3 separate regions of the Homo sapiens genome follow, and all the other regions are linked to region 3. The links come from fine-mapping of genetic effects on gene expression. A gene starts in region 3. Each other region holds a variant in brackets. All regions are shown on one strand. Distances are from middle to middle.

Region 1 (8,276 bases), 44 kb after region 3:
TTAGCTGATATGCTGCCCAGCTACCTTGGATTAACCGAGAGGGCAGAAGGCTGAGTGATGATGTCAGGCAAGGTGTTTGGTTAGTTTTCCACATTCTTCTGGAGTTAGGTCTTCACAGTGAGGTGTAGTTTTTGTGTGATGTCGTATTAAGCAAGCCTTTTTATTCTGAGGCTTGGCCATATTGGGGACTTGTTGATGCTGGAGGGACTGCCCCACCCAGGGTTAGCCAATTCTTAGTGGAAGCAAAGAGCTCTTCTGTGAGCATGCCTTTGACATGCGAACCAAGCCACCCAGACCCCACCTCCCAACCACCTCCTTTGTGGGGCTCCTGCACTCTGGGCCACCATCACTGCAAGGCTACGTTCCAGGCAACTAGGAGCAGCCTTTATGCCCCAGAGCCCACTGAAAGGATTCACACTAGCCAATCCTGAGCCTGCTCACCTGCCTCACCTATTCTTTCCTGCAGAAGTCACAGTAAAGGCTATTACCCACACTTCTCCTCTCTACCTTTGCCTCCTGGTCAACCCCAGTGCTTCTCCATGTGTCCCCCACTCCCACCATCACGTGGTGTGGCATGCCTTGCCCCTTCTCTTGGGAACTGTGAGTAACAAACTATCTTTTCAATGGCAGTTGCCTTCTGAATCATGTTGAAACCTACATTTCACAATAGACATATTGTCAAGTTCCAGGACACCAGATATTTATGTTTAAGTGTAGGTCCCAGGACCATTTCCATTATCTAGAAGGAATATTTCCTAGGGATAATAAATAGCATAGCTTATTGAAACGGATTAGGGGCCAGTGTCGATCAGAGTTCAATCAGAGAAGCAGAGGCACTAGCATACACATCTCACTAGATACACCACCAGGGTACTTGTATGGCAAGCAGCCTTGTAAGAGAGCAATAGGGTTTCCATCAGCAGCAAAGGGCAGGCTTGTTTACTGTCTAAAATGATAAAGATTTCGTCTCCCTCCAGAGCAAAGTTCATACAAGCTTACTGCCCAATATAAAAGGCTTGGGCTTCCAAAGCTTGAGCTTCTTCTCTAGGAAAGTCACCCACTGCCTCTGGAGATAACACCTGGCTCTTGTCACATTAGCCTGCAGGAATTGGGACTGGGGAGATGAACACAAATGCTGACACTTGGTTACTGCTATTGCTATGAGTAATGAAGTCCTTTGTCTCTGCCTCTGTTGTGTCTTCTGCCAGCAACCTTGAAAGTGTGGCAGGCTAACTTGTTAGACTGCAAGTAGGGTGAAATCTCAAACCTTTCCCAGCTCTTGATATTTCCTAACCAACACCAGTCTCATGGGTCAGGAAGGAAAGGGGCTTGTTCCTCTCTCTGTCACTGGTCAGTGATAATGGCCTCCTTAAGGGATCACTCTACATCCACCTCTGGAGGGACAGACATCAGGAGTCCAAGCCAGGATGCTCATACAAAGGAAGAGTTGCTGATGAATGAGCCATGCAGGTCTCACTATCAGCAAAACCAGGCAAAACATGCAACTCCTTTTGGGAAAGCCCCTGTGTTCGTCTGCTGAGGCTGCCATAACAAAATGCTATAGACTGTATAACTTAACAGAAATGTATTTTCTCACAGCTCTGGAGCCTGGAAGTTCCACATTAAGGTGCCAGCAGATTTGGCTCCTGGTGAGGGCTCTCTTTCTGGCTTACAGACAGCCACCTTCTTGCGCCATCCTCACATGGCCTTTCCTTTGTGGGTAAGTGGAGAGAGAGCCCTCTCATATCTTTTACTCTTCTGGTAAGGACACCAGCCCCATCAGATTAGCGCCTCACTCTTTTTAAACCTTAAATCACTACTCTAAACGTTCTATCTCCAAACACAGTCACATTAGAGGTTAGTGTTTCAACATATGAATTTGGGAGGGGACCCAATTCAGTCCATGGAAGCCCCTATCTGGGGAACTCACTCCCAATATTTCAATGTAAGTTATTTCTATTTTCCATAAGTGTTGGCCAGCTGAGAAATAAAGAGAAAGAGTACAAAGAGGAATTTTACAGCTGGGCCGCCAGGGGAGACATCACGTATCGGTAGGACCGTGATGCCCACCTGAGCCTCAAACCAGCAAGTTTTTTATTAAGGGTTTCAAAAGGGGAGGGAGGGGGTGTCATAACAGAGAGTAGGTACAAAGATCACATGCTTCAAAGGGCAAAAAGCAGAACAAAGATCACATGCTTCTGAGGGAACAGGACAAAACGGCAAAAGCAGGACTACTGATAAAGGTTTATGTTCAGCGGTGCACGTATTGTCTTGATAAACATCTTAAACAACAGAAAACAGGGTTCAAGAGCAGAGAACCGGTCTGACCACAAATTTACCAGGATGGAATTTTTCCCCACCCTAGTAAGCCTTTGGGTACTGCAGGAGACCAGGGCATATCTCAGTCCTTATCTCAACCACATAAGACAGACATTCCCAGAGTGGCCTTTTACAGACCTCTCCCCAGGAATGCATTCCTTCCCCAGGGTATTAATATTAATATTCCTTGCTAGGAAAAGAATTTAGCGATATCTCTCCTACTTGCACATCCATTTATAGGCTGTCTGCAAGAAGAAAAATATGGCTCTTTTTGCCCAGCCCTGCAGGCAGTCAGACCTTATAGTTGTCTTCCCTTGTTCCCTAAAAATCGTGGTTATTCTGTCCTTTTGCAAGGTGCACTGATTTCATATTGTTCAAACACACATGTTTTACAATCAATTTGTACAGTTAACACAATTATCACAGTGGTCCTGAGGTGACGTACATCCTCAGTTTATGAAGGTAACAGGATTAAGACACAAGTAAAGACAGGCATAAGAAATTATAAAAGTATTATTTGGGAACTGATAAATGTCCATGAAATTGTCACAATTTATATTCCTCTGCCACGGCTCCAGCCAGTCCCTCCGTTCGGGGTCCCTGACTTCCTGCAATAAGGCCCCAAATAGCTGTGAGTGAATTCAATCCCATTCACACTCAACTTAAAAATGTGATCATATATCTTCAACCATCTGCTTGAGGGAGGAGGAGCAAAAGGCAAGTTCTGAAGAAGACAAAATGGAGAGAAGGACTTAACAAAGTGCAAGTAGCCCTTTGGCTTCCCAGGCAGGTTTCTCACAATTTTCTCCATGGTCTTTTGCTGCTCAAGTCAACATCTCATGCCATGGTGTTTTCCTGTGGAAAGCTGTTGCCCACTTTGTACCTTAGAGGAAGTGTGTGAAGAGCAGGTCATCCAAGCTCCATTCACATCATCATGTGGAGAAGGTACATAGAGGAAGTGGCCAAGATGGGGGAAGAGCTCTGAGGCAGAGCTGGTGGGAGTCAGAGCTCCAGCAGAAGCTGCTTGGAGTGGAATATGGGGGTCCTTGTTACCAAGCCAGGGAGTCACGAACATTTGTGTGGGATGCTGAGCAGGAAAGCAGCATGCTCAGACGTGTGTTCGAGGAAGATTGTGGTAGAAGTACCATGCAGCTGGACCAGAGGGTGAGGAAAAAGGCACAGAGAGAAGTTAGGAGTCTAACACAATAGCTCATGTTATGGGCTGCATGGTGTCTCCCCAAATTCCTATGTTGAAGCCTTGACCCCCAGTAACTCAGAATGGGCCTGTATTTGGAAATAGGGGTTTTAAAGGGTAATTTAGTTTAAATGAGGTTATTGGGATGGGCCCTCATCTAATATGACTGGTGTCCTTATAAAAACAGACTACGGGCCGGGTGTCGTGGCTCACACCTGTCATCCCAGCACTTTGGGAGGCTGAGGTGGGCTGATCATAAGGTCAGGAGATCGAGACCATCCTGGCTAACACAGTGAAACCCCATCTCT[G/A]CTAAAAATACAAAAAAAAAATTAGCTGGGCATGGTGGCAGGCACCTGTAGTCCCAGCTACTGGGGAGGCTGAGGCAGGAGAATGGCATGAACCCAGGAGGCAGGGCTTGCAGTGAGCTGAGATCGTGCCACTGCACTCCAGCCTGGGCAACAGAGCGAGACTCTGTCTCAAAAAAAAAAGAGATTACGATACAGCCATGCACAGAGGGATGACTGTGTGGGGACAAAAAAGAAGACAGCCATCTGCAAGCCAAGGAGAGAGGTCTCGGGAGAACCCAACTCTGCTGATATCTTGAACTTGGACTTCCAGCCTCCACAACTGTGAGAAAGAAATTTCTCTTGTTGATAAGCCACCCAGACTGTGCTGTTTCATTATAGCAGCCCAAATGGACTAAGACATCATCTCTCTGCCAAAAGAGAAAGGGGAGTGAGTGGATTCCAGGACTGAGGAGAGTCAACCTGGAGAGGTGTCTAAGGGATGCCAGGCAGCCAAAAAAAGTACACTGGGGCCTTGTCAGTAAGACTGGTGGACTAGACAGCAGTGGAGCCTGAGAGGCAACAGGTTAGTGCTCCAAAACTTGTGAGAGGGAGGCAGGTGAGAAAAGGGGGACTCGGGATGCAGCATTAACACCAGCAAATGCAAGGCTCATGAGACTGGAGAGAACCTCAGACACCATACCGAAATCTTTGGTTAGCTGGCTCCAGTCTTGCTTGGAGATGGGGTCAGCAAGGTCCTTCAGAATGCCAGTGAACACAGGTCTCTAAGTAGCTCCCATCGCGGGCTCCAAGTCCTGTAGAAGAGAAGTCAGCAAGGTCAATGCATGAAGCCCCTTGGTGCATATCTGAGATATTTTCTCTACTACGGTAGCAAAGATGTAGTGCATCTGTACTTTCCAATATATATCTACGACTTTTGGTACATTCGACAGACATCTGTTCCGTGCTCTTAAGCACCTGCCAGCCATGGAGTTTCAGATGCATTTCTTAGATAAGCGAGCTTCTTTCCCATTGCAAATCACAGAGTGACAAAAGCACAGATCCTTGCTAGGGCTGCAGGCTGCTGGCAGTGTCACCCAAAGGCTGCTTTCTAAGGAAAACATTCTGCTGGGGTTTTTTTTTTGGACAACACGGTTTCATGTGCTCATTTATTTCACACCCATGTTTTAAAAATTATTCTTTTCGGCTGGAAATATATCTTCACCCATGATAATAGATGGAAATTGTGAGCTGCTTACAGTTCCCAAGTGACATTAGCATATGTACTGAGTTTCTTCTTGAATCCCACCCCTCCTCGCCTTTTTGCTTTTCCATCTTTTTCTGGTTCTTAGGAGGAAATTTTTAAAAGAACACACTGCCTGGATAATATATCTCATACTCACCTTCCTTCCTCCAACCTTCTTACTGGAGAAGGTGGAGAAGCTTCAGATTCCAGTCCTTCAACTTTATTTTCGGCCTGTAGGAGCATCCTATTCACACCTGTGCCCTCCTCCCCCTTTTCCTGACTTTGCCTAGCCAGCCCATACCTTCTCCTGCCTGGACAATTACAATGTCCTTACCTTCTCCAAGAGGCCCTGCAATCTTCAGTGTTTCCTTATAATCCATCATCCACACTGCAAACAGAGGTATCTCTCTAAAATTGTAAACTGGGTTGTGTTAAATTCTACTTCATGCTTCGGTGATCCTGTTACCTACAGAATACATCCAACCTCCTTACCACCATACTCATCTCTCACCCTCCTGCCATTTTACTCCAATACTGCATGTGATTTCAAGTCATTCTGCTGAGGCACATGGTTCTTTTCTCTTCCCCAAATACCCTTTTCTTCCTTGTCCAGCTGGCCCACCCCCAGTCACTCTTTGGGTCATGGCTCAAGCGTTGCTTACTCTTGGAAACATCTCAGCCCTCCTAAGCTGAACTGATCACTTCATCAGAGGCTCCTAGACAAACCCTGGCATGTGCCCCTGCGTGTCTCCAATGTCTGCCGCCTTGATGTCACCTGCTTGACCAAGTACCTGGCTACAAGGGCTGACATTCCTCTTCTTTGCAACTCCAGCATGAGCCCAGTGTTGGGCTCAAAGTAGACTCTTTTAAAATATATTGAGGCCAGGTGCAGTGGCTCATATGTGTAATGTCAGCACTTTGGAAGGCTGAGGTGGGAGGATAGCTTGGGTCAAGGAGTTCAAGACCAGCCTGGGCAACATAGTGAAACCTTGTCTCTACAAAAAATAAAAAAAATCAGCCAAGCATGATGGCACATGCCTGTAGTCCCAGCTACTCAGGAGGCTGAGATGAGATTATCGCATGAGCCCAGAGTAGTTCATGATTGCAGTGAACTGTGACCATACCACTGTATTCCAGCCTGTACTCCTGGGTGCCAGAGTGAGACTCTGTCCCCCAAAAAATAAATAAATAAAAATAAAATAAACTATTTGAATGAAAAAGATACATTGAAATGGTTTAGGTGGCTGATGGCAGTCGTAGGTCCTACTCTCTGTGTTTATTGGAAGGGTCACTCCAATTAAACAAATACTGATGGACCACTCATTCTGTGCCAGGTTCTCTCTGAGTACTGAAGGTACCCAGATGAACAAAACATCATTCCTTCACTGAGTGAGCACACACCTGAGCAGTGAAGACCAGCAAGGAATATCAATAGCACAAAATGATAGCTGCTATACTTATAGGAGCAGAATACCATGCCAAAGGCTCCCGAGCATAGCTGCACATCCAAATCTAGGAGTTTTAAAAAAATGTATGTCTTGATCTTATTGTTTATGTATTACTGCTTCACAAATTACTCCAAAACTTAGCAGCTTGAATCACAAACCTTTATTATATCACGACGTTGCTGTGGGTCTAGAGTGTGGCAGCAGTTTTCCTAGGTGGTGTTAGTATTGACACTGGGATTTCTCATGAGATTGCAGTCAAGATGTCAGTAGGGGCTTCTGTTATCTGAAGTCTTGACTGGGGCTGGAGCCTCTCACATAGCTGGCGAGGTGGTGCTGGCTGTTGGCAGGAGACCTCAGTTCCTCACCACGCGGACCTTTCTATAAAGCTTCTTGTGTGTCCTCATGATATGGTGGCTTTCCTCAGAGAGAGAGAGAGAGCAAGATAGAAGCCAAAATGCCATATATGGCCTAGATCCAGAAGTCACATTGCATTGTTTCCACAATATCCTACTGGTTACACAGGGCAGCTCTATTTGGTGAGTGAGATGGCTACACAAGATTGTGGATACTAGGAAGTAAAGATCAGAGGGAGCCATTGGAGGCCGGCTACAGCCTGACTCTTACCCCAGGGAATGAATTCAGTGTGCCTGGGTAGGGCCCAAGGTTCTGCTTATTTTGCCTTTTCTTTTCATTATCGTGGCTTTTTAACTTTTTATTGAAATATAATATACATACAGAAAAGTATACAAGTCACAAGTGTTATCACAAGGTGCATAATTTTTTACAAAAGACACACACCCATGGAATCTATACCCAGATCAAGAAACAGAGCATTGTTCAGGTGCAGTGGCTCATGCCTGTAATGTCAGCACTTTGGGAGGCTAAGGTAAGAGGATCACTTGAGCCCAGGAGTTCAAGACCAGCCTGGGCAACAAAGTGAGACTGTCTCCACAACTTGTTTTTAAATTAGACAAGTGTGGTGATGTATGTCTGTAGTCCCAGCTACTCAGCAGGCTGAGGTGGGAGGATTGCTTGTGCCCACGAGGTTGAGGCTGCAGTGAGCTGTGATCACACCATGCACTCCAGTATGGATGACAGAGTGAGTCCCTGTCTTAAAAAAAGAAAAAGAAAAAGAACATTGCCAGCTGCCACCTCTTCAGGGGCCCTCATTACACTCTCTTCCAATCACTAAACTCTCAAGAGTATGTCTTCATGACTTCTAACAACCTAGAATCATTTGTCTATTTCAAAACTTTATAAACATGGAATCATATAATAGGTACTTATTTGTATCTGGCTTCTTTTCACTTGACATTATGCTCATAAGAGTTTTCTGTATTGTTATGTGTGGCTGTTTTTATTAATTCTCATTCCTACATAGCAGCCCCTAGAGTTAAATACCTATTCTGCTGTGTACAAGTGTTTGGCTGCTATGCCCAATGCAGCCACGAATAGTCGTTTAAGTGTCTTCTGGTGAATATGTGTACCTTTTTATGTGGTGTATACACCTAGGAATAGAAATGCCGGGTCATTACAGCAGGCATATGTTCAGCTTTATGGAGACTGTAGAACAGGTTTTCAAAGTGGTCCTACCAATATACACTCCTATCAACAGTCGATGAGAGTTCCAGATCTCCAATACTTAGTATTTTCTGTCTTTTTGATTTTAGTCATTCTGGCTGGCATAAGGTGATATCTCATTTTGGTTTTAATTTGCATTTTCCTGATGACAAATGAAGTTAGCACATTTGCCTAGGTTTATTGGCCATTTGGACGTCCTCTTG
Region 2 (8,276 bases), 22 kb after region 3:
CTCATGGATCAGTCCCTTCTCACACTGCTAGAAAGAAATGCCTGAGACTGCATAATTTATAAAGAAAAGATTGGCTTCCTTGGCTCATGGTTCCAGGCTGTACAGGAAGCATAGAGGCTTCTGCTTCTGGGGAGACCTCAGGAAGCTTTTAATCATGGCAGAAGGCAAAAGGGGAGCAAGGTATCTCACATGGCCAGAGCAGGAAGAAGAGAGTGAGTGGTGAGGTGCTGCGCACTTTTAAACAACCAGATCTCACCAAAACGCACTCACTATCACGAGAACAGCACCCAGGGAACGGCGCTAACCCATTCATGAGAACTCCACCCCCACGAGCCAATCGCCTCCCACCCAGCCCCACCTCCAGCACTGGGGATTACAATTCGACAGGAGATTTGGTAGGGACACAGAGCCAAACCCCATCAGCTCAACTGTGTTGACTTTTTGTCTTTTACAGTTTTGGAAGTCCAATACTCAGAACTTGCTTTTCACCTCCTGACCAAAGGACACTGTGGCAGCATGCCAAAATGTCTTTTTGCCTTTAAACTTTCTCACCTGAAAGTCCAACATTGACCAGAGGGTCCGTGTTGTTATAATGCCTGGGAGCCACTGAGCTCTGGCTTGTGGTGAAGATACAACTGGCTGAAAGGTCGTTGAATCTGAGTGCTGAGTACGTAAGTGTTTTCCATAAACAGAGTGGCTTAAACAATATAATTTTTTTTTTTTTTTTTTTTGAAACTGAGTCTCACTCTGTTGTTCAGGCTGTAGTGCAGTGGTGTGATCTCGGCTCACGCTAACCTTCACCTCCCAGGTTCAAGTGATTCTCCTGCCTCAGCCTCCCAGGTAGCTGGGATTACAGGCACCTGCCACCAGACCCGGCTAATTTTTGTATTTTTAATAGAGACAGGGTTTCGCCATGTTGGTCAGGCTGGTCTCAAACTCCTGACCTCAGGTGACCCATCCACCTCAGCCTCCCAAAGTGCTGGGATTACAGGCGAGAGTCACTGCACCTGGCCCAACAGAAATTTACTGTCTCACAGTTTTGGGAGCTGAAAATCTAAGATCAAGGTGTCAGCAGGATTGGTTCCTTCTAAGGGACAAGAACCTGTTGCATGCCTCTTCCCTGGCTTCTGGTGGTTTGCCAGCAATCTTTGGCGCTCCTTGCTTTGTAGTTACATCTCCAAAATCTCCACCTTCATCTTCACATGGTGTTCTTGTGTTCATGACTGTCTCTGTGTCCAAATTTCTCCCATTTTAAATGACAGCCATCATATTGGATAGGGCCCACCCTACTACCTCATCTTAACTTAATCATGTGCCTCCTCCCCACAAAAAACCCTTTGTTCACAGACACTGGGGGCTAGGAATTCAATATTTTGGAAGAGGAACACAATTCAACTCACAATTATTATATTATTATCTCTACTTCTGCACACATTTGAGATTTTCCTGAGTGAGTTTCAAAAAATCTGCTATAGCTCTAGAACACTCTATCAAACAATAGCAAAATGTATGTTCTTTTCAAGTGAATATGGAATGTTCTCTAGGGAAGGCTTTATGCTAGGTCATAAAACAAACCTCAGTAAATTTAAAAGGATTGAAATGATACATAGTATCTTCTCCAACCACACTGGAATTAAATTAGAAATCAAAAACATAAAGTAATTTGGGGAACCCACAAATATGTAGAAATTGAACAACATACTCCTAAATAGCCAGTAGGTCAAAAGAAAAATCAAACTGAAAATTAGAAAATACTTTGAACTGAATTAAAATGGAAACCGCAACATTCCAAAACTTATGGAATTCAGCTGAAGAACTGCCTAGGAAAAATTATAGCAGTAAATGCCTATATTAAAAAAGAAAAAAAACTCAGAACAATTACTTCCATCTTAAGACACTGGAAAGAGAAGACCAAACTAAACCTAATTCAAAAAAGAAAGGAAATAGTAAATATTAGAATGGAAATTAATGAAATAGAGAATACAAAATGGTAAAGAAAAATCAGTGAATCCAAAAGCTGGTTCTTTGGAAAGGTAAACAAAAATAACAGAATTCAACCAAGACATAAGAAAGAAGACTTAAATTATTAGAATTATAGAAACGATATCAGTTTTTCACAAACTTTTCCAAAAAACGGGAGAGAAGGGATGCTTCTCAGCTCATTCTATGATGTCAGTATTACCCTGATTCCAAAACCAAAGACATCACAAAAAAAGAAAACTACAGATCACTATCTCTTATTACTATGGATACAAAAATCCTCCACAAAATCGTGGCAAATCAAATCCAGTGACATATAAAAAGAATCATACACTATGACCAAGTGGGATTTATTCCAGGAAGGCAAGGTTAGCTTAACACCTGTAAATTAATTATTGTAACAGACCCTATCAATAGAATAAAAACCGAAAGCCACATGCTCATATTAATAGATGCAGAAAAAGCACTTGACAAAACCTAACACTCGTTTTTTGATTAAAAACCACAAGAAGATACCTCTTAGCACCTACCATGATGGCTATAATCAAAAAGATAATAAACTTTGGTGAGGATATGGAGAAATTAGAACCCTCATACATTTCTGGTGAGAATGTAGAAACGATGCAGTCACTTTGGAAAACAGTGTGGCAGTTTCTCAAAAAAGCTAAACATAGAGTAACCATTTGAGCAGCAATTCCACTAGTAGGTATACACCCAAGAGAAATGAAAACGTATGTCCATATGAAAACTTGTACATGAATATTTATAGCAGCATTAGTCATAAAGCAAAAGATGGAAACCCAAATATTTATGAACTGTGAATGGACAAACAAAAGGTGATATATCCATAAAATGAAATATTATTTGGCCACAAAAAGAAATGAAGTCCTGATACACGCTACAACATGAATGAAACTTGAAAATATCATGGGAGGTAAACAGTCACGAAAGACCACCCATGACATGATCCATTTATATGAAATGTCCAGAATAAGCAAAATAAAGGGACAGAAAATAGATTGGTAGTTGCTTAGAGCCAGGAGTATGGGGGAATTGGGGAGTGAAGACTAAAGCAAATGGGAGTCTCTTTTTGAGGTAATGAAAATGTTTACAGTGGATTATGGTGACGGTTGCACAGCTCTGTGAATATACTAAAAACCACTGAATTGTACATTTTACACTGATGAATTGTACAGTATGTAAACTGTACCTCAATAAAACGGCCACAAAAAGAAAAGTAAGGAGGAGTGAAGCAGGATAAGGAAGGTTAGGAGGCCATACTCACTTACTGACTTTTCCCCTGGCGTAAAGCCTAGTGGGCTCCGCATCCCTTGCACCCTCTTACGTCAGCGCCTGACTCTTTTGCAAGATAAACAGTCCTGCAGGACACCAGCCAACTGCCTGATGGTTACAAGTTCCTAATAGCTAGCACAGCCCGGGAAAGAGACTTATTCATAATGTAGCTTCCCCAGTACCTAGCCAATCAGCATCCAAAACCCAAGAAGCTATTAGCTGCAAATTACTGCCTTGGGGCAGGAGGGCTGAGGATTGCTCCAGGGTCCCACCTGTGCAGCTAGGCTCAAGGTTTAGCTCATAGTAACCTTTTCTTCATTTTAATAGTAAAAAAACACACCCCTAGGCGGAGATTTTATATGCTAATGATACATGCATTGCATGTTACAGCATGCAGATGCTGAGCGCATGTGTCAACCGCAGGTCTGTCTTTACGTACTTGACCTCACCAGTATTTTATGAATATATACGAACAATTCCCGCAAAAGGAATTCCTCTGAAGGCACTAGTTGCTGTCTCTCCCTTTAAGCAGCCCACTCAGCCTCTCAGAGGGTACTTTCGCTTTACAATAAGCTTCTTTGGCTACTCTTCCTTTGGAGTCACTCTCAAATTCTTTTGTGTGGTGAGATCAAGAACCTAAACTTACCTACCGACCACGGGAGGAGGAGGCGGCCTTCGTGGTAGCAAATAGCAGCAGCAGCTACTAAAAGCAGTCATACACAGAATCATGGGGTGAATGCCTAAGCGGTGTTTCAGAGAGTATGGTGTAAACCAGCACGGCCCAGTAGGTATTTCCATGATGTCAATATGGTCACCACTAGCTATACGTGGATCTTGAACACCTGAAATGTATCTAGAGAGACTGAGGACATCAATTTGCAAATCTTTTTTATGCGTTTGCATTATGGGTTGTTCTGGTTCTAAGGAAACAAATTTTTTCACCAAGAAATTCCTGATTTTTACATGTCCATGCATTATAAGAAAGAGTCTTAAGCTAACTCGACTAGACTAGTTCACTAGTTAACCCAGACTTGCCATCGCTTTCACAGACAGAACTCGATATGATCAAAATGAGACATTTTCAAGAGGCTCTTGAATCTGAGGATGTAAAAAAGCCCAATGTCCAATGGTTGCCTACGTCACATCAGGAACCACTGTTCCACCTGCATTGATTCCCATGCCCCTTTTCCACGCTGCTAGAAGGAAATTCACCCCACCCACTACTGCAATCAGGACAGGAAGTC[C/T]GACTGATCCAACAACACCCTTTCTCAAATAACTCTTTCGGAGATAGGTCTCTGTTGTCAAATGTCACTTCCCCACCTTTAGGAAGAGAACAAGTAGCAACATACAAATACTGGTTATAAGCAAGTTGATAGCTATTTTTAAACTAATTAAGAGCCCTTCAATTTCAAAAATAAAAAGTGTTCGTAGTAATTTGTGAAACCTTTAACACTAGCCAATCCATGCGATACCAGATGTGTGAACTGATTACATCCCTACCACAGCTAACAAAATGGTGCAGAAATGAAAATGGGAATAGTTGGGATAGTCTGTCTCCCAAGGGAATTAGCAAATACAGTTGGAAAGTCTTGCAAATTCAATACAGCTCCTATTTTGATGGTTTCTAGAAGTTAAAAAGAACATTAATGAATAAGATAAAGAATCTCAGACCCCCCAAAGCGCAAAAAAGTTTAAGAAATTATGCCAAAACACAAAATGCTTTAGACACGTGGCCCTTTAGGAAAACCTTTCCACCTGACAGAAATAAAGTGTGAAATTTGCCTAAATGCACCTAGCTGAAAAGCTATATATTGTAATGACACGTATGGATATTTTAAAGGGTTTAAAGAAATCTGTCTTCTGGAAACTGAAACATCCAATAGTTTCCTTCTTGGAAAAGGAGATTTTCAAATGAGAACAGATTTTTTCAAATTAATTTAATTATTAAGACATTCATCAAAAGTATATATCTTTCAAAACAATGTGAATATACTTAACATCTATAACTATAAACTTCATAATGGTTAAGATGATAAAAATAAAGGTATATATTACCCTAATTAGCATAAAATTAAAAAAATTTAAACTATGTATAAACAATTAAGTCATTAATAGAACTGTGAAAAGTGTTCCTGTTTTCTAATATTAAATTACATCTCTCTCTAAAAAGCTTTTGGATCAGAAAAAGGAAAAATGCAAATGTTAGTTTAATAACATGGACTTCCTACTGTTGAATTACAAGAGAAGAAAGAGGTGTAAATAATCATTAAGCCACCAATTAGTAGTCAGATGACGGCTTCACAAAACACCCTTCCGTGTTAGAAATTTAGGTAAAATGTAAAGGAATTCAGTATTACTTACTAAAAATAAATACAGAAGAATTATATAAAAATCCATCATGCATACTTAATGAATTATAGATCTTGGCAAAATAGATAGCTACATATTTTCTCTTTGATTTTATCACGGTGTAAGAACATAGTATAAATGTAACTCTTTATGCATAATTTTGGAATTATCATCTTATCTCAAGCTTAACTAAATAGAATATCCTAAGGTCCTTCTACTTGTCAGGTAGGTTATCAGTGCTAACACCATATATTTAAGACTAGAAATGTAAACGTATGTATTTATTTAATGAAAGCTGTAACAATTGATGTCTTCATATAAAACACTGCTAGTTAGGTGAGCCTATAGAATCACTTCACCTTTACTGTGGGAGTTTTAAAGAGTTTTATTTCTAATAATTACAGTGATTATATTTTCTTTAATGTCAAATTAAAATAGATGTTCTAAGATGCCTAACTGACTTGAGACCTTTAGCTGATTATCAGCTGAAGTAATTAGAGAATAGTCTTTATGTATCTGGAAATTTTCCAAGGAAAATATTTTAAATTATAAACAAAGAGAAAGAAAGTACATGCTCGTGGTTTTGGCTTATGTCTTTTTGCCCATAGAAACATATATATATATTTATAACACTCAAATGAAGATAGTACAAATAGACCTAATATACTTGATAAGATTAGTTCTGTTTAGAAAATTCAAATTTCAAAGGGCTGAGTAGTGTTGTCATTTTAACATTGTTTGGTGTGACACATGCCTACACGTACAGGTTTAAATGCACTTAAATGTGTCTCTTCCCCTAAGCAGAGTCTGGGGTGAAGACTTGCATTCAGGACTTTTTCTGGGAAGTCGTCCTAGGGAGCAGGAGTGAGGGGTAGGAGGAGTGACTCAGAGGAAGGTAGAAAGCCAGCCCACGGCGGGGGGTCATCAAGGCAGTCACAGCCAGTGCAGTTGCTGCTCAAACTTTCAGGACCTTTGGAAGAGATTCCTGAAATGCATTGCAGATGGCAGGGGAGGCATTTCCGATCCACTTCACCCCAGTCACTCAGGGGTAACCGCAGTGGCCATCCTGGGCAAGGCATCAAGCAGTCTAAGGGTGCAGGACGTGGGGGTAGCCCATCAGAGCCTGCTGGCAGGCGTGGCCACTGAAGAGGCTCAGACCCTGCGCTGGCACTAGCTAGCAATGTATGGTGGCGCCACCAGGACCCTGACACAGGTGTGTGGTATGAATGAAGGAGAAGGAATGGGCACAGCCATGCCCACTGTGTCTGGGCCAGCATCTTACATGATTCTCCTCCGTGAGGCATGATTTGTAATTTTTTAGGGCAATTTTGGGCTTAGAGAAGAATTGATTGGAAAGTATAGAATTCCCACATATCTCTCCCTGCCCAGGCTCCCCCCTCACATTTCCCTATTATTTACATCTTGTATTAGTGTGGTACGTTTGTTATAACTGACAAACCAATTCTGATACGATCTAGCGTTCTATACGAATGATGATAGTTAACAATAATATATTGTTTCAAATAGCTGAGGGAAAATATTGAACATTCCCAATGCAAAGAAGTGATGAAATGTTTCAGATGATGGATGCACTAATTACCGTGACCTGATGTCTACACGTTGTATTTATGAGAACATCACTACATACTCCATAAATTATTTGTCATATTTGTGTAATTATTATTTATCAATTGAAAAAATAGAATTAAAATATATTTCAAAAAGATTTTCACCAACACTATCAAGAAAAAAATTTACAAATTTAAAATTTAAAAAGTTACCAATAAATAAAATAAAAATACCAAAAAAAGATACAGAATTATTATTAACTAAAGCCTGTAGTTTATATTAGGCTTCACTCTTTGAGTTGTACATTTGCTGGGTTTTGACAAATATATTATGTGTATCCATTATTATTGTAACATAGGAAATAGTTTCACTGCCCTAAAAGTTCCCTTCCTCTGGATTTTAGTTTACTTTCTGATGCTGTTTCCAAGATCTAGCCCCAAATTCACAACCTGACAGATTTTTTTGAATCTCCACCATGTTTGATTTTTCTAAAACAGCCCCTTGGTGGTGCCTAGACCAATGCACGTGCCCGTTGCTGGGGAGACATACACACGCTAGAAAGACAAGAATCAGGTCTGGCGCAGTGGCTCACACCTGTAATTCCAGCACTTTGGGAGGCCGAGGTGGGCAGATCACATGAGGCCAAGAGTTTTAGACCAGGCTGGCCAACATGGCAGTATCCTGTCTCTACTAAAAATACAAAAATTAGCCAGGCATGGTGGTGCACGTCTGCAATCCCAGCACTTTGAGAGGCCAAGAAGGGCAAATCGCATGAGGTCAAGAGTTCAGGACTAGCCTGGTCAACATGGCAACACCCTGTCTCTACCAAAAATACAAAAATTAGCTAGGAGTGGCGGTGCATGTCTGTAATCCCACCTATTCAGGAGGCTGAGGCACAAGAAATGTTTGAACGAAGAGGCAGAGGTTTCAGTGAGCTGAGATGGCACCACTGCACTCCAGCCTGGGTGACAGAGTGAGGCTCTGTCTCAAAAAAATAAAATAAAAACAAAAATAAAAAAAAGACAAGAATCAGCACCTGGGTACAAAAACACTGGAGATAAATTTTATTTCATGTTTATTTATAT
Region 3 (8,000 bases):
TAATATATAACATATATAATAAAATATATAATGTTATATATTATATATTATATGTATTATATAATATGTATTATATATAATATATAATAAATATATAATAAATAAATAATAAATATATAAGAAAATAATATATAATATATAATATATATTATAATATATATAATATATAATAAACATAATAAATATAAATATATCTAATAAATATATATATTTATTTCTGGACTTGCTTGATTGTCCATCTCCCTGGCCAGTACCTAAGCATCTTGTCTTAGTCACCACTGCAGCCGCACAGCTCAGACAATGCACGTGGAAAACAGGTGGATGTAAAGATTTCTTGAAAGCAGCAATTTAACAAACTCTGATCTGATGCCTCCCCTATGCTCTTTCACTACACCACGCTGCTTCCCAGGAAAAGGATAAATGTGTGTACAGTTCGTCATTCTCTCCTAACAGATTCAAAGGTCCATGGCTCATCTGCTTCTTCTTCATGTACTACAAAGCCCAGCACCTTGTAAATGCAAGGTAAAAAGGAGGAAACAAATGAGCGCAAAGTAACCACCATAAAAGGTAAATAAGAAAGGAAAGGTAGTTGATGGTCATGGAGAAACTACTCAGTTGTATTCAACGGCATCTGACCATTCAGCGGTCAATCCTTCTTTTGTTTCCTACGCGTCTATATGCCCAAGCCACAGTTAGACGTTTCGAAGGAGATAAAAATGAATTCCAGTTGTGGAATTAACAGAAGAATTTGTGAAGGAGGTAGCGGTCGAAATGGTTAAACTGAATACTCATAGACAGGTAACAGGCTCATTGCCTGTGAACTCCTGAAAGACAAGAACTGTAACATATTTTATTTACCTTGGTGTCTTAAATGCCTAACAAAACGTCCAGAACATAAAGGCATTTGGCAAATGTTAAACAAACTTGGGAGAGGCAAGGCATTCCAGCAGAAGGAAGAAGTCAATAAAATACACAGATGACAGAATACAGGACATATACCAGCACCAGTAAATAGTGAGGACTGGCTGGTAAAAAGCGTTCATGAAAGCAAGTGCAAGAAAGGCTCGTTAAAAGAAATGGCAAGAAATAAAGTGAGAAAGTAGGATAGGGCCGAGACACAGAATGCCATGAATGACTGAGGGGTTTAGATTTTCAATGAGAGACCACTGAAGACTTTTTTTTTTTTTTTTTTTTTTTTTGAGATGGAGTTTTGCTCTTGTTGCAAAGGAAGGAGTGCAGTGGCCCGATCTCGGCTCACTGCAACCTCTGCTTCCAAGGTTCAAGCGATTTTTCCGCCTCAGCCTCCTGAGTAACTGGGATTACAGGCACCTGCCACTATGCCCGGTTAATTTTTTGTATTTTTAGTAGAGACGGGCTTTCATCATGTTGGTCAGGCTGGTCTCAAACTCCTAACCTCAGGTGATCCGCTCACCTTGGCCTCCCAAAGTGCTGGGATTACAGGCGTGAGCCACCGTGCCGGGCCCACTGAAGACTTTATACAGCAAAAGGTGGCTTGAGGAGACTAATAAGAGCCCCCTGCTCATATCAATCAATCAATCTACCATGGCTTCACCCAAACTGCCTGCAATTCTACCATTAGAAATTTTTATTTTAGGCCAGGCGCAGTGGCTCACGCCTGTAATCCCAGAACTGTGGGAGGCCTAGGCGGGAGGATTGCGAGGTCAGGAGTTCAAGACCAGCCTGGTCAATATGGTGAAACCCCATCTCTACTAAAAAATACAAAAATTAGCCGGGTGTGGTGGCGCGTGCCTGTAATCCCAGCTACTCGGGAGGCTGAGACAGAAGAATCGCTAGAACCTGGGAGGTGGAGGTTACAGTGAGCCGAGATTGGCCACCGCACTCCAGCCTGGGCAATACAGTGAGATTTCGTCTCCAAAAAAAAAAAAAAAAAAAAAAGAAAGAAAGAAAGAGATTATTATTTTAAGGCATATCCTCTGTACGAATCTTCCTAATATCCAAATTATCCTGTGAGGCAATAGAAAATGTTGTCGTCATTCATTTATACTTCTGTGTAAAACGGATAATCAGTTTGCCCTCTCCTGGCTAGCGAGTAGCCACTAAGGAGATGGGAATTTTGAATGCAGATGAAAGTTTAACTTTTTGACTTCGAGGCACTGCCTTGGAAAGATAAAGTCTGGAGTACAAAAAGAAAAAAGAGGTTAACTGGTCCATGCCTTTCCTTGAGAGCCAACCCTGTTCTTTCAGCAAGCAGAATTGAGTAAAGATGAAGAGAAGACATCAGAATCTCCCTTAGTGAGAATTAAATTTTGATGACCCAGAAGGTAAGAAATAATATGATACACTGAACATTTTTCAGAAATTAAAAAAATGGTTCTGTAGCATGTAGACACTCATAACTTTATAATCTGTTTAGTTTTCCTCAGAAATGGTAAAGACTTTACCTAAATCACATCCAATCACTTCATGAACGGTGACTGACAATACCAATTCAAGGAATACGATGGGGCAAGAAGAAGAAGAAATTTATAAAGACAATGCCGAAAATCCACCCAAATGGTGTTACGAACCAGAAATGATCATCAGGATGGTACCAGCCACACGATAACCCTGAGAACTCCATCCAGGTTTAATGGAAACCGGGTCCTCCATCTGGACGGGTTTCAGCTTGGTAAATCCTGATTCTAGGCCACAGAGGGCTCATCTTGCCGGCTAGCTGGGCGGCAGGCTGCGCGGAAAACGCCAGGAAGTATTTCCCGGGGCGCCCACAAGGGACCCCCGGCTCCCTGCGGAGCTGGGGTGGGGCGGGCACTCACCGCTTGTCGATGGCGTCGATGTTTGAATGGAGGAGCCACAGCTCCTCCGTATTGTCCTGCCGGGAGGACAGGATCAAGTGGTGGCCCGTCAGGCACAGGGTGCCCTCGACAGCCGGGTAGAAAGGCCGGTGCAGCACCACATTGTCCACCCGCGGGGTCTTAATCAGCTCCGCAAACTCCATGCTCCCCCGCGGCCGGAGCCAGGGAACCGAGCCCGGTAGGTGCGAGGCGGTTACCCCGCCGCAGGGAAGTAGCGGAAACACCCGGCGCGGGGCTGGCCCGTGGGGCGGGGCGGGCCGGGCGGTGAGGCTGGGCCCGCCCCAGGCTGGGTGGGCGCGGCGAGGCCTACAGCCGCCGGCACCGGCCGCGGGGAGACAGGGGCTGGGGCTGGACGAGGCCCAAGCGCCTCTCCCGCACCGCGCGGTTCACCAGGCCTAGGACTCGGCCACAGAGAACCCCTCTCCACAGGCCCAAGGACCGCCGCTGCCGTTGGGCTCCGGGTCCCGCGTTGGCAAGCGGAGGGCAGTAGGAGAAAGCCGCCTCAGAATCCGCTTCCACGCCCTGGCCGCTAGGGACTCCTAGCGGAAGTGGCTACTCGCTGCTGGAGCCCACAACAACTCCGGGCGGAAGCAGCAGGTCTCGAAACTCGGAAGACGCGGAAGTCGCAGCCGGAAGTTGGTCCTCGCTAGGTCCTCTGGAAATGCCTCCGGAAACACAGCCAGACCAGAAGATGTGTGTTCCTACGAGAAAAAAAGCTTGTCTTTGCCTTCACGCCCTCCCGCTGCCTTTCTTAACCACCTACAAATATTCCTTATCAGAAGAGGTCCGGGAAGAGGGAGGAGGTCCCTGTCTTGCCTTCCTCCGCTTGAGTAGTATCCCCTCCAGAAGCTCTTCAGAGCGTGGGGCTGCTGTAAATTGTGATAATTGTTATGCATTAGCCCTGAAGACATGGCAAGTAGGGGATGGAGGCGGTGACTGTGACCTTACGGAATCCTCCAGGGGTCAGGGAGGGACACAGGGCCACTCCACAGGCTCTCCGAGAGCGCCGCGCCACGAGGTGTAACCTGGAGCAAGAAAGAGGAAAAACAGGAATACCTGTGAGAGGAACCCAAGTACATGCAGTGCACAGAAGAGCAAGTCACTTGACTTGCTGGCGGCCACCCCGTTAATCTGCAGCAGAGCCTGGACTTCAGTCTGCATCTGTGAAACCCAGCGCATGGGTGCGTTGGTCACCACCGCACAGCCTCCCCGTCAGACACCCACGTTTCGCCAAAAATTTATTCAAATAATTACTCCTTTGCTTGTTCCTTTCCCACCGCCCACTTCTGACATTTTTATTCAAAAGTAGGAAATAGAAGAGAAATATGTTTGAGTGCTGGTCTGCTGTGACTTCATTGACCTTTTAAATCCTCACCATCTAGTACCTAAGCACAGCGAGTTGGACAAACTCTCACAGTATTCACAAAGTAAATTGCCACAACCTCATCAGCTCATCCAACACTTGTCCATGCTTTTGATTTTGTCCTTCTTAAAATGTACCCTTCTTAAAATAAACCACTTTATAGACTTGTTTTAAGTGAGATACGTAAATGCCTACCAACTTTCCTTGGTGTCTTTGTTGCATAGTTACTGTAGACTGAATAATAGTTGCCATTTTTTATATTTTTGCAGTTTAATTGCTTTCGTCCAAATAGATGGAATCACTTCCTTTGTAATATATGAAGTGTTTTAATTCATTTTTATAACTAGCATTCCTGACAGCACAGGTATCCACCCCCTGAAGTTCCCATTCTATAGAACAAAATAGCAAATAAGTATTTTTTTTTTGTTCCATAATGGACACCCAGTATACACCCAGTATACACAGGGACACCGCATACAGGGAATCAGCTTTATTTTACAACAGAGCTTCACTTTACCCCTCTGGCAATTAATAGATTCTGGGTATTTATTAAGAACTTTAAATTTAATGCAAAGACTGTTAAATACCACCAGCTCAGCTCTGGCAAAGGACTGTTGGCTTTGTTTATCTCCTATCTTCATCCAGATACACTGCCATCCCTATCCCAGCCCGATCTTGGGTCCTTGAAAAAAATGACCTATCATTCCAACTACCAGGGAGGAACTCCCTTTGAATTAATGAATCTGGATGACTTATAAGACTTCAAAAGTATGGAAATGACAAAGGTTAAAATGACAGGATGAGCAGTAAACCCTCTCCAGTCCAATCAGAGCAACCTTTTTGAGGGTGCATTCCCACAGAAACCCATTAGGGGCCCAACATCAACATACACAGAGCTAAAATTCCAGATGCCACTTTGTATTGAAAGAAGCCAAAATTCTGTTCAGGTCGTGGGAACTTGAAGTCTTCAATGCAACCACACCCCAGAAATTAACCCTCACACAATCATGTAAGCTATGCAATTAACCAAACTGCATCGTTTAGAAAACCTGTATGCTTTTCATGGAAACCATCCCTAGTTAAGGGCACTTTAAAGGATGCACAGTCTAAGTACTGTGAAGGTGGGCCCACTAGCTGGGTTGACATTTTCGCTTGGCCACTTTAGTAGGAAACTTAACCACTTGGGAAAGTGAAAACAACAAGCTAACCCACATGTTCACCATGGAAAACAATTTTTGTCTTGAAAAACAAGGAACCTTTTCCCTGTGCAGCACCAGTTCCTACTGTGTTTACCAGCCAATTGGACTGGAACCTGTACACTTGGTTTTTAGCCTCCGAAATCAATATAGCTCCCGGCCGGGCGCAGTTTCTCACGCCTATAATCCCAGCACTTTGGGAGGCCGAGGCAGGCGGATCACCTGAGGTCAGGAGTTCGAGACCAGCCTGGCCAACATGCTGAAACCCTGTTTCTACTAAAAATACAAAAAATTAGCCGGGTATGGTGGCGCACACCTGTAATCCCAGCTACTCTGGAGACTGAGACAGGAGAATCACTTGAACCCTGGAGACAGAGGTTGCAGTGAGCCAAGACTGAGCCACTGTGCTCCAGCCTGGGTGACAGAGGGAGACTGTCTCAAAACAAACAAACTATATATATATGTGTATATATATATATATATTTAGAGAGAGAGAGGGAGAGCTCTCAACAACCAATCCCTCATTATACCTTTAACTGCAACCGCCAGACACAAATGAGCAATCCAACTCAAACGCCTTTTTGTTGGGCTAGGAATAACAGTGAGAGCAGGAACGGGAGTTACCGGGCTTGCAACTTCCCTATACTGTTACCAGCACTTTCCAAGGATTTTGTGGAAAGCTTGGATGACATTGCCCAAAGTATCGTCACAACACAAACTCAAACAGACTCCTTGGCAGCAGTTGCTTTACAAAATAGAAGGGGACTGGATCTCCTAACTGCTGGAAAAGGTGGCTTATGTCTTTTTCTAGAGGAAGAATGCTGTTTTTATGTCAACCAATTAGAATTAGTAAGGGATGCCACCCAGAAATTAGCTGACCAGGCTTCTAAGATACGACAACAGCTGTCCAAGTCGTGGTCCTCCTGTTCAAAAATGCTAATTAGGGGTTCATGAGTCCTTCCTCTGACTGGCTCGTTGTTAATTATACTTGCCTTGGTTTTTGGACCATATTTATTAAATACATTAACCAAATTAATTTCCTCTCGCCTAGAGACCATCAAGCTTCAGATGATCATGCAACAAGGTTTCCAGCCAGTTCAGGTGAAGACACCACTACTGGCCATCAAGAAGCTACCCTGTATCCACTAGACAGAGCAGAGTGAGAGTTCTGTGATCCCAAATAGGTAGGCACCGCACCCCAAGTCAGCATGAAGCAGTTACAGAAGAAAGACCATTGGTCCCTCTGCCTCCCATAAAGATTTATGGGGATCATGTCTCACAGCGGGAAAATGAGACAGGAGAATAGGGTCTAGAGGCAGGGAACCTAAGGCCAATTCTCACTGACTTCCTAGAACTGAATCAGAGGGGAAACCCCACCTCTTCACACGAATGTAACGAAAGGATCAGAGGCTACTCCCTTTGCACTGCACTGCAAATGAAAAATGGAAAGTACCTCTGATTGGTCCCCTCCCACAACCATTCAGACTGGTTGCAGGCCAAGTCTTCATGTGTAACTTTGTAACTACCGTCACTTCAGACTCTGATTGGTCACCTCCCATGATCAGTCAGACTTGTGACGGGCCACTCCTTCATTTACATAGGGTGTAACCAAGTAACCAATGGGAAACCTCTAGAGGCTATTTAAACCCCATGCTGCACGATGGCTCACACCTGTAATCCCACCACTTTGGGAGGCTGAGGAGGGTGGATCACAAGGTTAGGAGTTCCAGACTAGCCTGGCCAACCGACATGGTGAAACCCTATCTCTACTAAAATTACAAAAATTAGCCAGGTGTGGTGTGGGCCTGTAATCCCAGCTATTGGGGAGGCTGAAGCAGGAGAATTGCTTGAACCTGGGAGGTGTAGGTTGCAGTGAGCCAAGAATGTGCCACCGCACTCCAGCCTGGGTGACAGAACAAGACTCCGCCTCAAAAAAATAAAAAAATTAAGCCCCAGAAAATTCTGTAACCAGCGCTCTTGAGCCACTTGCTTGAGCCCGCTCCCGCTCTGTGGAGTGTACTTTTGTTTCAGTAAATCTATGCTTTTGTCGCTTCACTTTTTTGTTGCTTTGTTTGTGAATTTTGTCCAATTCTTTGTTCAAAATGCCAAGAACCTGGGTGATTTGTAGTCAGTACTCTCCACCAGTAACAATAATATTGTTGCACCTGAGAGTCCAGTCTAAAAACAAGAACCAACAGAGTAGGGAAGATGAGGGGGGATGATTTACAAAGTTATTTTTTTAAACTGGAGTTTTTGACTTTCTTCATTTATGTGGATAAGTTATAACAATTACCAATTGTGGAATGAAGAATTTAATTACAGAGTGAAGAATCAGGGAACGTTTTATGGAGAAGGTATCATTTGAAAACAGGACCTTGAAGGATGAGGGTCACACTCTGAATGGAATGTGGCCGACAGAGATGTCCAATTTAGTGATATCTCCTAGAGGTGGGGATGCATTTTTCAGTAATTCCATTACCTTTTTCTTTTAGTTTCTTTATGTGGGGGGAGGCACATGAAAAGCTCATGGTTTCATTAAGTGAAAAATGTTTACTTTTCTATAACACCATGAACTTTTTTGCCCATGAAAGAAAATTGTCAATATCA

Which allele goes with the higher level. Positions count from the first base shown, and alleles are read on the strand shown. Sizes are in standard deviations (SD) of each study's normalised expression. Not every link is listed here.
With allele T in place of C in region 2, the expression in stomach of the gene that starts at base 3,050 in region 3 is lower (small effect, 0.23 SD a copy in GTEx).

What was found.
Region 1: its variant is fine-mapped to the expression of MTMR9 in whole blood (INTERVAL, PIP 0.98).
Region 2: its variant is fine-mapped to the expression of MTMR9 in stomach (GTEx, PIP 0.96).

What each region holds. Positions count from the first base shown.
Region 1 is chr8:11,235,453-11,243,728 of GRCh38, reverse strand. No RefSeq gene overlaps it. Among named protein-coding and RNA genes, the nearest start is that of XKR6, 38 kb to the right of the region's middle. The variant G/A (reference allele first, on the strand shown) is at 3,823.
Region 2 is chr8:11,257,260-11,265,535 of GRCh38, reverse strand. The region is part of intron 4 of LINC00529 (long intergenic non-protein coding RNA 529); the gene reads left to right. Among named protein-coding and RNA genes, the nearest start is that of LINC00529, 23 kb to the left of the region's middle. RefSeq lists an enhancer at 3,222-3,516. The variant C/T (reference allele first, on the strand shown) is at 4,518.
Region 3 is chr8:11,279,866-11,287,865 of GRCh38, reverse strand. It overlaps MTMR9 (myotubularin related protein 9), which reads right to left and starts at 3,050. Exons shown (of 10, transcript NM_015458.4): 1 at 2,796-3,050. The coding sequence starts at 2,977. It overlaps LINC00529 (long intergenic non-protein coding RNA 529), which reads left to right and starts at 3,835. Exons shown (of 5, transcript NR_170283.1): 1 at 3,835-4,015; 2 at 6,445-6,577. RefSeq lists silencers at 2,962-3,371, 6,864-6,913 and enhancers at 3,065-3,566, 3,842-3,901, 3,992-4,081.